Linked DNA regions of Homo sapiens. Changing the gene in region 4 together with the main gene of any one other region gives a genetic interaction. Each region holds a gene or a part of one and is shown on either strand. Other genes may lie near its edges.

Region 1 (3,500 bases), on a different chromosome or scaffold from region 4:
AGCTCCTTGGCTTCCTTCTTCTGGTTTCGCGCCTCATACTCCAACCTGAGAGGGCAGGGTAAGTCTAGCAGAGAGCGCCCATGAGGCGGCTCCGAGGGGGAGGGCACGGTAAGTCTAGCGGAGAGCGCCCATGAGGCGGCTCCGAGGTGCCCCCACCCAACTGCACCTGTTGGTGATGATCCGCTGGACGATGAGGTCTGTGGTGAGGTTGCTGCCACTGTCAATCTGACGGAAGATGCCCCTTCTCTTGGGCTCCTGGGGGTCCAGAGAGGAGGAGCGGGATGAAGGTCCCTGCTGACCTCCCCAAGACCCATCTGATGCCCTGCCCCAGAGGGAGACCAGCGCCCAGGGTCCCATGGGAGTGGTGCAGTCGGAGCAGCTGCGCCACCATGCCCGTTTCCCAGGCAGGCACAGTGAGTCATTAAATGGCTGGGAGGTGCCAATGGCAACCCCTGTGCCCAGCAAGGGCCAGCATGACCCACCTGGTATGGGTCGGAGCCATCCCTGTCAGGGATAATTTCTGTCTTGCCGTGACACACCAGGTCCACCTGGAGAAGGAGTGGGGTCAGGAGCCCTCCCCGGGGAGGCAGCGGCCGTCGCCACCCACAGCCCAGCACAGGCCCCGGGGGTTGGGAGAGCTGACCCTGCCCTTTCCTCAGCCCAGGTACCTCCTGGGCCCCGCCTAGGAGCCCACAGCCAGCCTGCATTCCCAGCCCATGCAGGAACAGAGGTGAACAGAGGGAACGAGGTGAGCCCATGCGGAGCCTCACCTTGAAGTGACTTAGGAGCTCTGCTGTGACCGCGTACGGGGCTCCAATCACCACTTCTGACACGTACTGTGGGGACAGTGGGGGCAGAAAGACTTGCTCGGTCCCTGCTACTGGTAAGCCAGGGCCACAGGGTGGTGAGAGACGGCTCAGACATGGGGCGGGGCTGCCAGTGAGTAGCAGGGATGGGCTGGGCAGGCTGGGGACCCCTGGGGCTCCTCCATGAGACAAGAAGGAACAGCATCTGGAGACCTGACCACCCCTCCTCATGCCTCAACAAACAGGTATGGGCAGGTGCCACAGAACTCGGGGTGCTGGGTGCAGCTCTGCCAGTGACCCAAGCCCCCCTGCCCTGGCTCAGGGAGGCCCTTAGTAGGGGGGATGTTGTGGGAATGTCTCCCCATCCTTGGGCTGGCTCCTGGCCCCCACTCACCCGGCAGGCCAGCACGCTCAGAGTCCGTTCATGCAGATTCATGATGGGGTAGTTCTTCCCCTTGTAGTGATTGACCTCCTGCGGCCAGAGTGCGGCTAGCTCAGCCCGGAGACTTTTTGGGGGGACAGGGTGTGCCCCTCCCGGCTGTCCCTCATGGGAAGAAGTCGGGGAGGTTGCTCGCCCTTGTGGGGATGCCCCAGACAGGACAGCCCTGGACCCCAGAAGCCTACGATCACCCCCCAGGGTCTCCTGTGACTTCACCTGGGGCCCCTTCCCAGAGACCACCTGCACCTAACAGCAACGCTTAGGGCCCCTCGAGGGCCCATCAGCTGCCCAGGGGCCCAGGGAGCAAGAAGGCAGTGACCTGGTCAAAGTGTAAGCCCGCGATGATGTAGGGCCTCTCTGCCAGCCTGTGCACCTTCTCCAGGAAGTCCACATGCCCGATGTCTGCACCCAGGTTAAGAAGCAGTCGGGATGGGGATGACAGGGAGCAGCTCCCTGACAGCTCATGCCCAAGGGCCTCCCCGCCATCCTCCCTGCTGACAGCTGCTCCCCTGCAAACCAGCCAGCCCAGTCTGGGGGCCCCAAGGAGTCAAGTGAGGCCCCCGGGTCCCACCCCATGTGGCACATGTAGGGGAGCAGCAGAGGCCCAGAGGATACGGAACAGGTCGAAGGCACCAGCCACATAGATGACTGTCTCCCCTGGCTGGGGCTCCTTCCCAGAAGCAAACTGGATGATCTTCTGAGATGTCTGCAGGAACTGGGATACCCCGGTCCAGGGGTTCCGCCCACCAGGGCACTGCAAGCCAAGAGAGGGAGCAGGTTGGCGGGGGAGGCCTCCCAGGTGCTGCCCTCACCAGGTCACCAAACCCTCAGCTGTCACCTGCCAGCAATCCCATTTCCAGCCAGTCATCTCGGGCAGGGGACACACTGCCAGGCCAGGTGGCAGGTGGGACTGTGGCGCCACCCCACAACCACAGCAGGCACCGCAGCAGACACCACTTCAGCCCAGCAAGCGACCACCAGGAGGAGGCAAGGAGCCCTGTGGCAGGTGCACACAGCCCTTGGGAGGGACCTGGTACCCTGAGACCACTGTCTGGTCACCTGGGAGCAGCCTTCTGAGGAAAGTATGTCCCCGGCGGGTATCGGGTGAGGGGGCTACAATGGGAGAGAGGGCCAGGCCACTTGGTTAGAGGCCACCTGTCCACAGGCAAATCCTTGCTCCTCCAAGCAGTGGCTGCCGTGACCGGCCAGCCGGTGCCACCACCCGCCTGCCCTCCCTCCCAGCATCCACCAGTGAGCCAAACCTGGCAGTCAGTGCCTGGTCAGTGCCAGGGACAGAGGGAGGAGGGTGAGGCTCTGGGCTGGCCTTTCCCCAAGGGATGGCTGGGACAGGTGGCCGGGGGAGCCCCCTGCAGCTGCGTGCTCAGCTCTCCCTGCACAGCCGCACTCACCTTGCCAAAACTGTCTGCATACTCCCGGTACTCAGAGGACATCTCCTGCACAGAAGGTCAGAGCAGGGCTGAGGGGCCTGCCCTCCCGGCGTGGCCACCCCAGAACCGGCTGGGGATGGGGAGCAGTGGGCAGGAGGACCCTGAGAGGGCAGGGAGGTGCCCCTCCTTTCCCCTGGAGACCTCGACCCAGGGGCCTCGGGGATTCCGCCGCCGACTCACCTGGCTGCTGTGATGGGCTTTGGTTACCAGCAGCATGCGGCCCACGAGGTCTGTGGTGGACACCCCTTGCGTGCGCTTGCATTCTCTGGGGGACACAGTGGGAGTGGGGTCTCATCCTGGGACACTCGCAAGGCTCTGCCTCCTGCTACCACCACTAGGGACACTAGCAGCCCTGCTGTGGCAGAACCCACGGCTGCCCCAAAGACTGAGGGTCCCCTTCCTGTGCAAGGCCATAACAGAAAACCTGGGTTGGGAACATGGGGAAGGCCTCCACGCTTTTATTGACTGAAGGGAGTGGCAGGAGCACAGAAAAGGACCCTTGCTGGGGCCCAGGTGTGCAATGCCAGGGAGAGGATGGGCACTGGGGTAGCAGCTCTGCTTCCTGCCTCCCTCACACCCACGTCCTGCCCGCTGAGCATCTGCAGCTGAGTGAATTCTCAGCTGCAGCATCTCATGCGGGAGCCACTGGCCTCATGTCCCTGACGTCTGGTAATTCAGATATAGTGCCAGCTCCCCAGCAGTGCCAGCCACGTCCCCCGAGCTCAACAGCTGCCACCTCACAAAGCTGTGCCTTTGGAGCCCTGGGGCCATGGGTCTGCAGCACCAAATGGCAAGGGCCTCCAGGCC
Region 2 (3,500 bases), on a different chromosome or scaffold from region 4:
ATTGTTTTCCAGAGTGGCTTGTACCATTTTGTATTCCCACCAGCAATGGATGAGTGATCCAATGTCTCTGCATCCTTACTAGCTTTTGGTATTGCTACTTTTTTTTTTTTTTTAAAGACATGGGATAGTTGTGTAGCAATCTCTCACTGATTTTAATTTGCATAATAGCTCATGATGTTGAACATTTTTTTGTGTACTTATTTGCTACATGTGTATCCTTTTTGGTGAAAATGTCTGTCTTTTGCCCATTTTCTAATTAAATTTTTGATTGTTACTGAGTTTTTTTGTTTTGTTTTGAGATGAAGTCTCGCTCTGTCACCTAGACTGGAGTGCAGTGGCATGATCTTGTCTCACTGCAGCCTCCACCACCCGGGTTCAAGTGGTTCTCCTGTCTCAGCTTCCCAAGTAGCTGGGATTACAGGAATGCGCCACCACACCTGGCAAATTTTTATATTTTTAGTAGAGATGGGGTTCACCATGTTGGTCAGGCTGGCCTGGAACTTCTGACCTCAGGTGGTCCACCCGCCTTGGCCTCCCAAAGTGCTAGGATTACAGGCATGTGCCACTGCGCCTGTCCTGTTACAGAGTTTTTAAAGTTTTTTTATGTTTTAGGTGCTAGTTTGTTGTTGGATATGAGGTTTGTTAATAATTTTCTCCTAGTTCGTAGCTTGTCTTTTCATCCTCTTTAATGAGGAATCTTTTACAGAGGAAAAGTTCTTAATTTTACTGAAGTCAAATTTATCAACTTATCTGTTGGCTGTAGCAAATATCCTCTGTCCATTTAGCATACAGACGTGGACTATCATCCTTCTTTTCCATTTGTATTCATGCCTGATACTAAAGATAGTGATATTTTTGGGCGTTATTCTTGTTGTTCTATTTGGACTGGTAATTCCTAATGGTTTTTGAACAGTTTCAACTTAAGTTATTCTAAACAAAAGAGAAAATGATCGTAATTTGATTTTTCCAAAGTCTTGGCTGTCTGTGTGCATCATAACGATTTGTGATGTCTATGAAACAATTCTCCGCATTGGTTCTGAACGTAAATTTTACCATGTCTCCAGATATTTAAAAGTACTCTGGTCAAGAAAATATTGTTTGTCAGTTTTGGAATGGATATGGTAGTTCTTACCTCATGTGATATAAAAAGGCTTAATCCACAATTGCTACAAAATAACATGAGTTTGTGTCTATGGATGCATTGTGCTAAGTTCCACCCCAAATGTGTTAAATATTTAAGTAAATCATGGTAGTGTGTAGGAGAACAGTTAATTTCCCTCTGTCATTTGAGTGGTATAACTATGTTGTAGGTCTTTTACATTAAATAGAACTAAGAAACTTAAAGTTGGCCAGGTGTGGTGGCTCACACCTGTTGTAATCCTGGCACTCTGGGAGGCTGAGGCACGTAGATGACTTGAGCTCAGGAGTTCGAGACCAGCCTGGCCAACATGGTGAAACCCCATCTCTACTAAAAATACAAAAATTAGCCAGGCATGGTGGTGCATGCGCCTGTAATTGAAGTGTGAGAATCTCTTGCACCCGGGAGGTGGAGGTTACAGTGAGCCGAGATTGTGCCGTTGGAGATTGTCCCATTGTGCCTGGGAGACAGAGTGAGACTCTGACTCAAAAAAACCACAAAAAATAATATTTAAAAAAAGAAGCTTAAAGTTAAATGAGTTTAAAAGGCCCCATGCAATTTACCATTGTGTATGTGTTTCAGTTGCCAGAGTCTGCCCTCCGAGACCTCATCGTAGCCACCATTGCTGTCAAGTACACTCAGTCTAACTCTGTGTGCTACGCCAAGAACGGGCAGGTAAGTGGGCTGTTGGACTCGCCTTCGGGGGACTGTTGTTTTACGAAATGATATTTAAACATCCGTCTGCCTTAGATATTGGACAGCTTGAAAGGGAATATTTGCCAAATGTTTGTCTTTTGTGTTTGTCAGTGTTTCCTCAGTACCCTGGTGGGCTGTTAAAACTAATGATGATCAGAAAATATCTTTGGAACCAGGTACTCAAAGTAGTTGTGCTGCTTCTTGCCTTGAATAGGTTGGCACATTTTGGATTAGTGAGACTCTAATAGCTGTTACAAAACTGGATTATTTCCTTTCCTTTTCCCCCATTGGTATTATTTCCAGGGAAGAGGAGGTAAGTTACGGTACTGCCACCCACCAGCCTATATTTTTGCAGCCTGCAGGGTATTTTCACATTATTTCTTATGTTGTCTTATCAAGAATCTGCTGAGTAGAAAGACTGCTAGACTAGGAGTTAACTTCATCTTTAAAAAGTTAGGTTCATTGAGGCATAATTTGTATACAGTAGAATTCACCTTTTTAAAGTACAGTTTGACCAGTTTTCACAAATTTCACAGTATGTGACCGCTGCCACAATTAAATACCAAACATTTCTCACTGTGTGACGTTAAGCAAGATATTACACTTCTTTCCTAGTGTCCCGAGCCTCAGAATACAAGATGGAGCTGGTTCATCTCTGAGGTCTCTGCTAGCCTTTTCTTCACCTGGTGTCCTGAGCTTATCTCTTGGCATTTGTTAAATTATTTGGCCCACAAGTGACAGGGAGGTGGGTGGATATGAATTAGCCTATGGCCTGGAAGACCCCAGATTGCCAGTCTCTGTAGTAACAAACTCCTGGGAGATTGTGTCTACTGGTGTCAGGTTCTAAGAAGTTCTGTAAGTCCATGTAGAATGAGTGCTTCATTCCTGATGTTGAGGAGGAGGCGGCTGCCCAGGTATTTGTGGTCTCTTTTATTCTCTTGTAGCTGTGGGCAGGGTTGCCAGCAGCTGTGCTCAGAAAGAGATGGACTGTTGGGCAGACAGCTTAGGGGCTGTTCATTATAGGAACTAAAACCAGAAAACACACCTGTGCATTTAAGTCCTTGTTGCTTAGAATTCAACCCATAGAAATAGAGGAAAGAAGGAAGAACATTTGTACCTGGCGGAATTGTTTCTACTTTTAGCTACCCATGTCAGATCCTTATCTCAATTTCTGAGAGTTGATATTTTAACTGTAATTTATACACTGGGGCAAACAAAAGACTTTCAAGTAACCATAGTTATTTTTGTGGTCATTAGTTTTATTTATTTATTTATTTATTTTTTATAGAGACAGGGTCTTGCTCTGTTGCCCAGGCCAGAGTACAGTGACATGATCATAGCTCATTGTAGCCTTCGACTCCTGGCCTCAAGCGGTCCTACCACTTCAGCCTCCTGAGTAGCTGGGACTGCAGGTGTGCGCCACTACCCCTAGCTATTTTTTAATTCTTATTTTTTGTAGAGATGAGATGTTGCCATCTTGCCCAGGCTGGTCTCCTGAGCTCAAGCAATCCTTCTGTCCTAACCTCACAAAGTGCTGGGATTACAGGCATGAGCCAGTGCACCCAGCATTGGTCATTTATTTTAACTTTTTTTTTTTTTTGACCTCAAACCATCAATTTTATTGAATTGTAGATTATTAATAGTCATATGTCACATATCACTGAAG
Region 3 (3,500 bases), on a different chromosome or scaffold from region 4:
AGGGTTATGGTGAGGATTAAATGAAACAATACCCATCGGCTGTGCGTGGTGGCTCACGCCTGTAATCCCAGCATTTTGGGAGGCTGAGGTGAGAGGATGGCTTGAGCCCAGGAGTTCGAGGCCAGCCTGGGCAACATAGTGAGGCCCCATCTCCAGAAAAAAATTCTAAAAATTAGCTGTGTTTGGTGGTGCATGCCTGTATTCCCAGCTACACAGAAGGCTGAGGCGGGAGGATTGCTTGAACCCAGGAGATGGAGGCTGCCGTGAGCTATGATGGCCCTAGTGCACTTCAGCCTGGGTGACAGAGAAAGACCCTGTCTCAAAAAAAGAGAAAAGAATGCCCCATAAAATGCCATACCATTAGCTTTTCATAATGATATGAAGCAGGGGCTGAGCTCCGGTGACATGAAACAAGTCACAGTTTGCAGTGTCAAAATGACACTGTGTCCCCCGAGAACCTGTGTTTTCCAGGCAGCACCAGGAGAAAAACATCTCATAGCAGGGATTTAGAAGGTGAGCAGTCCTGCCAGTACCACTCGTATGCTCTGTCCAGTCGGGGACAGGGGGACAGAGGAGTCCGTTTCTTTTTTGATATGGCATCAGGCCACCAAGGCGAGGCCTTTCGAGGAGAAGAGCCTCAGCTTTCGAGGCAACTCAGCAGCCTTTCCTGAGCCCCTCCAGAGAGTGGGTAGGGTATGAGAAAAACCACAACAATCCTGGTTCTCAGATAATGCCTGCTTCCTCCAGCAGCGGGGGTGCTATTGTCTTGATTTCCACAGATACTCTCGGGCCATGTGGGGTGTGGCACAGCAAAGAGGATCCTCCCACTCATAAAAAGCTAAGTGTGAGATGGCAGCTTTGGGGCTCCAACCTCAGTTCGCTGCTGCCTGAACAGAAACCGGAGTTCACAGGAAGCAGAACCTCCAGCCCCACACCCTGGCCTTCCCCAGGACACAGAGAGGAATGTCCTCACCAGTGGGTAGCCCAAGCCTCAGCCCTCTTAGGATCAGAGAATTAACTGTGGGACACCAGGCTTAGGTCCCCCAATCCCACCCGCTTATGTGAAAACTCACCCACCCTCCCAAGTCAATGTCCCTGGAAAGGTAGGGCAGCAGCACAGAAGACCAGTCTCAGAAACAGGAAGGCGGGGTCAAGGTCAAGCCAGGCTGTGCCCTGGCCTGGTCTTAAGCAATCTCAGGCCAAGGAATGAAGGATGGTACTATTTTTAAACCTCATGTGACCTGCACGCAAACCCAGCCAGGTAAGGATGGAGCCCTGTTGTCAGGGGCTCTTTGATCATTCCAGGTGAGTAGGAAGTAGTTATGACAATGCCCCTCTCAACAATTCTTTGCCTTTTTTTTTTTTTTTTTGAGACGGAGTCTCGCTCTGTCGCCCAGGCTGGAGTGCAGTGGCGCGATCTCAGCTCACTGCAAGCTCCGCCTCCCGAGTTCACGTCATTCTCCTGCCTCAGCCTCCCGAGTAGCTGGGACTACAGGCACCCACCACCACGCCCGGCTAATTTTTTGTATTTTTAGTAGAGATGGGGTTTCACCTTGTTAGCCAGGATGGTCTCGATCTCCTGACCTCGTGATCCGCCCGCCTCAGCTTCCCAAAGTGCTGGGATTACATGCATGAGCCACTGTGCCCAGCCGATTCTTTGCCTTTTAATAACATGACTTTCCACAAGAAAAAGAAAAACGTGTGTGTGTGTGTGTATATCTATCTATCTATCTACACACACACATATACACACATGCACTGAATACTGACTATGTGCCGATGGCCCCACGGGGGAGGGTATTGTCATGCCCATTTCACCAGAGGAAGAAAATGAGACCAAAAGCTTCGGCCACTTGGTTAGGATCACCAGATACTAATGGGGAGCTGAGACTGAAACCCAGGTTGGCAAGTCTTTGTCAAGACCCCATCTTGGGAGGACAAGGGTCCAGGGAAGATACCTCTCTCTCCCCCAGGCTTGAGTTTCACTCTGAAGTCACAGAAGCATGGCAGAGATAAGCAAGCTAAGCCCTGGGTGAGGAAGTGACTTTCTCAAAGTAACATAGCAAATCAACGACCAAGTCAAGATGGTGGGAGTCCCCAACAAGCTGCCTCCTACACATCTTCAGGTCTCGACTTAAATGTCACTTCTTCAGGGAAGCCCTCCTTGACCACATAACGCATGGCCAGAGGCAGGCACATGGTGGGTGAGCTTACCTTCACTGTCGGTGAGCACTTCCATGCGCCCGCTGAACATGGCCTTCAGCATGGTGTCCTGCTTGGTCAGCGTCTGCATGGTGGTATAGTAGAGGGCTCCACCCACATTCAGCTTCACGTATTTGGAGCTGGGGCTCGTGCCCTTGAAGGAAGTGGTGCGGGTAGCAGCCGCTGGCACCGCTGAGCTCACCACACTTTCTCCTGACATCTCTTCCTGCCAGTGGAGAGGATACAGGGTCATGACATCAGGCCTGGTTGACTGCTTTCAGCCTGTGGATTCAATCTGGCCTCCAGATGTGTTTTGCTTGGGCCACGCATACACAGCATTTAAAAGTTTGCTTCCAATGTGGACAACTAAGGAGAGCTCACAGAAAAATCTGGACTTCTGGCTTCTCCTAAAATCAGAGGCCAACTGGGCTAGCAGGGGAACAACTGGTCAGAGCTGGGGTATTGGATGACCCCTAGAGAGGGCCATGCATCCCCTAGTTTGTCCCAAAACCCACCCAAAAAGCCTCATACACTGACCCTGCCTGTCGACCCTGCAGGCACAAGGGTGCCCCTAACTCTTGTGTTATAAGCACTTCCTTTCTGCCTAGCACCTGTATACATGAACACCCTGGCTGCACCCTAAAACAGCCTAAAGCACTGCCCAGGTCTCTTTACATTTCCTTATTGCCATGTACCACTCAATAGCTAGCTAAGTGTCATTTTTCAGCTGCATCACAGATGAAATAAGCTTTATGAAGTTGAATGGGATTCCAGCTGGCACTCCTATCACTTCCTGTAGGGAGAAGGTGTTTCTGAGGACTAAACAACAGACATGGAAACTTTTGGAACCAAGTTATTGCAAAATTAGACCTCCTAGACTAGTGCTGCCCAAAAGAGCAAGATCCCACTACCATCTCCCTGATAGCATGGCTGACTCTCTGTACATCTCAAAGAAATGGATACAGTGGCTGATTTACGCAGGCCTGGAAAGTGAGATTGGTATCCGGCACATGTGTACTCAGAGCAAACATGTCTGAAATGAACAGGTAAAACTGTAGAGGTGGAGATGTGCAAGGGTGGGCAGAATCTTTGCTGAATCTGGGGTAGCCCCCACGGCTGGCCCTACCATTCCCATTGAACATCAACAGTTTTTCACAGCACATCACCCTCAGACAAGGCCACTCTGTGCCCTTGCGACAAGACAAAAACAGGACCATTCAGTCATCATGTCCGGACACAGACAAAAACATAAACATTATCCAAAATACAAAAATGACCAAAGATCCCCTATCCTGGCT
Region 4 (5,251 bases):
GGAAGTGCTGAGTTTGCAACAGGGCATTGCAACACAGCCCAGTGTTTTTGTGGAAACGTGGAAACGATGGTCCCCTAATCAAAACATGGTTGCATAAATGGACTCACTCCACTTAGGGGGAAAAAAGTTGTTTAAAGCCTATACATGGGGACCACACAACCCTGATTAATTTTTAAAGTTCTTTCTCCACTTTCTTTCTTAGAAAGTAGCTAAAAATAAAGGCTTGAAACTTGAAACAATGTAAGCAAGTAAACACACACACACACACACACACACACACACACACACACACACAGCTTTTCCCATATATGGCTGCGTTATTCTTCAGTCTTTGAAAAGGGCAAATGAAGAGATGGCCAACAACCAAAATAATCCTTCAGACATTTGAAAACGAGGAGAAAGAACTAGAAGAGTTGGTGAATGACAAATAATTCTGAGGCTCAATGGGGATAAATAACACCGAGAGGGATTAGTTGCCATAGTACTTTAAAAACATGGGCACATGCATTTTGACACTGGGCCCCTTCTATAAAGAGACTGTTTTGCCCTCTGGCCTCAGCACTGAGAAAACTACAACTGCAGTAATTTAACATAAAGGACTTAAAGAAGGAAACCAGTGCAGGGGCATGACTGAAAATTTAATTAAGGCCCTTCTCAATATAAAGTCTGTAAAGGAGATGAGGGCACATCTCAAGGTCAGAAGAAGGCGGGAGACTTGGGAAAGATTCAAATGAGATACGACAGCATAAATAGCAGAGGTAGGCTCTGGAGATCAGCTTCCTTATGATAGATGGTTATTACCGCGTCTTTTGGGTCCTACGTGAAATGTCTCTGTAGAAAAGATTAACACATGCATGTCAAAAAAAAATGCCACCTTGTGTGTGGGGGACAGAGGGGGGCACATTTTCATAGTGTTTTGTGGTTTTCAAGGCCGTGTCAGATGTAATCCTGGACACAAAGTAAAGCACCTGCTTTTCTTGATTTGGAAACTGAGACTCTGGGAGGCTAAGTGAACTCTACAAGTTCTATTTTTTTTTTTTTTTTTTTTGAGATGGAGTCTCACTCTGTCGCCCAGGCCACAGTGCAATGGCGCGATCTTAGCTCACTGCAACCCTCCACCTCCCGGGTTCAAGCGATTCTCCTGCCTCAGCCTCCTGAGTAGCTGGGATTACAGGTGCACACTATCACGCTCAGCTAATTTTTGTATTTTTAGTAGAGACGGGGTTTCACCATGTTGGTCAGGCTGGTCTCAAACTCCTCTCCTCGTGATCCACCCGCCTCGGCCTCCCAAAGTGCTGGAATTACAGGCATGAGTCACCGCGCCCGGCCCACAAGTTCTATTATGGGTGGTTTTGTGCAAGGGGGCTGGGGTACCAACAGGAAGCAAAATCTCCCAACATGCAGGCCACGGATCTTTCAACTCACAAGACCTTTGAAAGAACATTTGTCAGACTGCCAAGTTTAGGTATGGATTGTGGCTCATCCACTAAGTCTCTGTGACCATGAAGAAGTCGTTTCCCCTCTTCTGATTCTCATCCTAAACTGAATATGACAGTGCCGCCCTAGCTGGCAGAAGGTGGGTGGCGAGGAGGAAGAGAGAGACAAGCATGAGCTGAGTCACTCTGCTCTCTGCACTCGTCTGAGTCTGTCCTTGCAAATCACCAGATAGGACTGGTGGGCACCATCACGATTTCACTGATGGGAACAGCAGTCACATTACAGGAGAGGATACATACATGGAATCTAAAAAAAAATGATTTCCAAATAAGACTGGAAAACCTCTTCAATCTCCCAAAAATATAGTAATGAAAATGACTGAAGAGGCAACATGAATTCTAAAAGATCATCCCACTGCCTTTTTCTTTTTACTCCCTAAGGGATGGAACTTCCTCATGATGCTTTGGATTCTTTTTCTGAAAAGACACCCCACTTTTTGGTGACCCTGCATGCTTCTAATGTTTTTCTCATGCCTGCCTATAAAGGTTTTCTATTTGGGTTCAGAGTCAATAATAATAACAAGCAACAGTAAAGAAACAGCAGGCATTGTTTGTTGAGGGCCTATGATATACACTGTTGCTGAGCCCTTTCTAGCAACCATCCATAATCCATACAACTACCAGGTGATGTCAGCATTACCTTCTCTATGTTACAGATAAGAAAACTAAGCCTCAGAGAAGTTTAGTGACTTGGCCAAAGAAGGCCATCTTTATAACGGCAGGGCTGGGATTTAAACCATTGTATGACTGATTCCAAAGCCTGTTTTTTCTGTTCCTATTGCATTATGAGGCCTCTAGTCAGTTTACAAAACGCATCAAAGACTCTGGGCAATGCTTCTCGTTCGTGATTTCCTCCCATCACTATCCCGCAGAATGGAATACCTTCCAGGTGGTCAGAAAGCTCTCCCATTGAAATCCCAGCTGCAGGGTAAGTAGGGTGGATATGAAGTGGGCTGGGCAGATGGAATGGCAAAGAGACCCCACATGCTTTCCCCCTGTACCAAAAGAATTGTGATTTCACTTCCACATCACTAACCTGGTGAGGCACAAGCCCAAGAGAGGTTGGAGGCTCATTCATCCGATCGTCACTGCTGCTGGCAATGGCATAGCCCCTGAGGACAGGAAACAATCAGAGCTGCTCATTTAATCCAAGTTTAACACATGGGAGGATGATCTAGCAGAAATCTACATAAGATTCATAAGGATAACTAAAATGCCCCTTGCTGGGCAGTGTAAGTTAGCAAAAAACTAATTTCCCTGGGACAAAGGGCAAGAAGAGTAATTTAAACATGCATGGTTTGGAGTCAGAAAGACCTGAGCTTGTGACCATAGGCAAGTTGCTTAACTTTTCTGTGCTTCAGATCCATCATCTATAAAGTAGGAATGAGGGAGCTCTGATTAATAAATGAGGAATCTACTACATCAACTGCCGAGTGCAATGTTCGGCATATCAGAGGCCAATAAACATTAACTCACTTACTATGAAATAGTCTTGTCAAACATCACAGCACATTTCTGTACTGAAAATTTGAAGTGGAAAATTTTCTAACCTTAACTTCTTGAGCTGATATAAATGCTAATGAAATGGAAGAAATAAAAGTGAAGAATGAATTGGGCAGAACTAATACACTACTCTCTGAACAATGGAGTGATACTTGTGGCACCAAAAAGATGTGACACAGGACCTGGTGTTTAAACTATGACCAGGGCAAATGTGGCAGACAGAGGCTCAGTGTCAAGGAAGCATAAAGTCAGCTCTCAAAGATTTTATCCCAAATACTTCCTGTCAGAGAGTGGCAATAAACTTAAATGACAGATAGCTAAGGTGGATGACAAAGAGGAAGACAAAAAAGCCCCGCTTTTCATTTATCTCAGAGTACCCATACTAGTTACATATACAACCACAATTTTCAACTGCTGAGGAAAGCTTTGAGTCACACAAGAAATAGAATATTCATGTTAATTTGCATATTGACTTTCTGAGAACTGGAAAAATAAATCTTTCAAAAATTCGATTTTCTGCTGCCTGTATTGCAAACAGCATAACAAAGTCATTAAACATAGTCTGGAGCCACACTGGTTGAGCTAAACCCTGGCTTTTCCATTTACTATGTAAATTTGGCCACTTACTTATCCTCACTATGCCTTGATTTCCCCATCAAAACTGCGACTAATAATAATAGTTCTTTCCTAATATGTTTGCTATGAAGATTAAAGGAGGCCGGGTGCAATGGCTCACGCCTGTAATCCCAACACTTTGGGAGGATAAGGTGGGTGAATCACTTCTGATCACTGAGGTCAGAGGTTCAAGACTAGCCTGACCAACATGGCAAAACCCCATCTCTACTAAAAATACAAAAATCAGCCGGGCATGGTGGCGTATGCCTGTAATTCCAGCTACTTGGGAGGCTGAGGCAGGAGAATCACTTGAACCTAGAAGGCAGAGGTTGCAGTGAGCCAAAATCGTGCCATTACACTCCAGCCTGGGCAACAAGAGCGAAATTCCGTCTCGTTAAAAAAAAAAAAAAAGATTGAAGGAGGCAAAATTTCTAAGGTGCTTAGAACAGTGCCTAGCACAAAGTAAGCCCTATATAAGCGTTGGAAAAATAAAATAAACCATAGTGACTTTGTCCGGAAAGATGCAGAAATGTGGCCACAAAGGAAACATGCCAAGTTATCTCAGCCCAAAGAACCAGACCTGCTTTTTCTAGTCTTGTTTTTTTGAGGGTGAAATAGTGAAATTCTCTGTAAAGTCAGACTGAGAAAAGGCCATGGGAGACACTGATGAACAACTGCCTACAAAAGCTTTGTTTAAATACTCATCTCCTACTAGCAAACTCACCCTTCTGGATGCTGCAAAACAGATACCATCAATTCCACGGCCAGGGCTCCTGCAATCACGGCCAGTCCTGGACGACTCACAGTGCACTGCTGGTCCAAGGTCCGGTCTCTGGTTGACTGCAAAGAAACAATCATTGGTGTGTGCAGAACGTTCTACTCCATTCAACTCTAGCTGTCTCAAGTATGAAATCCTCTGTGACAAAGCTTTAAATTATAACCAGATGCTCATTGTTGGCAAAGAACATCCAGCCTCAAGTACATCATTTCTTGAGATTATCAAGATAAACAAAATATACAATTTAGGTAACTAAATGAGGTGATATGCTAAAAAGGATCAGTAGCCTAAACAGATTGGGGGATATTAACCAAAAATGAGGGCTTAGCTGCCTCATATAATGGAACTGCATCATGTGTTCCTTTAAGTGACTCAATTCAGTTCTACTGTGCTTGGTAGTTAAGTGACAGAGACACAGAAAGGAACAATGATTTGAAAAGTGCAAATGATTCTGCCCTGCCATTTTAACTGAGCTAACACCTCAAAGTGACCGTGAGATGGGAGCAACAATTTACTATTCCTGCGGCCCTCAGTTCCTATGTGCCTCTCACAACATGGGCATCACCTCTCTGTGTGATTCTAGGGTTTACTACAAGTATTTTTTTTTTCTACAACATGGCTCTAAGCACAAGCCTTTGCTGGTTCAACCAAAGAGAGTCTAACCATCCAACTCTGGGCAAATTAAGAGGTTGTTAGAGATATTTTTGACTCTATAAAAATTTTACCTTATGAGCAGATGGGACTTTACTGCAAGGGACCACTAATCGTATTTGTTGACAATCACTAAATAACAAGACCAGCTATATATTATAACACCATAACAGAGATCATCAAGCCATCTTTCTCCATAAAAGAGAAT

What was found.
Region 1: of ATG7 (region 4) and PCYT2, changing one suppresses a phenotype caused by changing the other (phenotypic suppression), as found in Homo sapiens cells (one large-scale study listed by BioGRID).
Region 2: of ATG7 (region 4) and ATIC, changing one suppresses a phenotype caused by changing the other (phenotypic suppression), as found in Homo sapiens cells (one large-scale study listed by BioGRID).
Region 3: of ATG7 (region 4) and KCTD10, changing one suppresses a phenotype caused by changing the other (phenotypic suppression), as found in Homo sapiens cells (one large-scale study listed by BioGRID).

The regions. Positions count from the first base shown.
Region 1 is NC_000017.11:81,904,900-81,908,399, forward strand, and holds part of PCYT2 (ethanolamine-phosphate cytidylyltransferase), read right to left. Parts: intron 2,959-3,500; coding exon 2,874-2,958; intron 2,700-2,873; coding exon 2,655-2,699; intron 2,359-2,654; coding exon of another isoform or gene 2,305-2,358; intron 2,000-2,304; coding exon 1,861-1,999; intron 1,648-1,860; coding exon 1,565-1,647; intron 1,279-1,564; coding exon 1,201-1,278; intron 837-1,200; coding exon 771-836; intron 549-770; coding exon 483-548; intron 256-482; coding exon 167-255; intron 46-166; coding exon 1-45. UniProt on the Homo sapiens protein: Ethanolamine-phosphate cytidylyltransferase that catalyzes the second step in the synthesis of phosphatidylethanolamine (PE) from ethanolamine via the CDP-ethanolamine pathway.
Region 2 is NC_000002.12:215,343,059-215,346,558, forward strand, and holds part of ATIC (bifunctional purine biosynthesis protein ATIC), read left to right. Parts: intron 1-1,720; coding exon 1,721-1,813; intron 1,814-3,500. UniProt on the Homo sapiens protein: Bifunctional enzyme that catalyzes the last two steps of purine biosynthesis.
Region 3 is NC_000012.12:109,467,301-109,470,800, forward strand, and holds part of KCTD10 (BTB/POZ domain-containing adapter for CUL3-mediated RhoA degradation protein 3), read right to left. Parts: intron 2,429-3,500; coding exon 2,215-2,428; intron 1-2,214. UniProt on the Homo sapiens protein: Substrate-specific adapter of a BCR (BTB-CUL3-RBX1) E3 ubiquitin-protein ligase complex. The BCR(BACURD3) E3 ubiquitin ligase complex mediates the ubiquitination of target proteins, leading to their degradation by the proteasome.
Region 4 is NC_000003.12:11,362,016-11,367,266, reverse strand, and holds part of ATG7 (ubiquitin-like modifier-activating enzyme ATG7), read right to left. Parts: intron 4,455-5,251; coding exon 4,339-4,454; intron 2,609-4,338; coding exon 2,533-2,608; intron 1-2,532. UniProt on the Homo sapiens protein: E1-like activating enzyme involved in the 2 ubiquitin-like systems required for cytoplasm to vacuole transport (Cvt) and autophagy.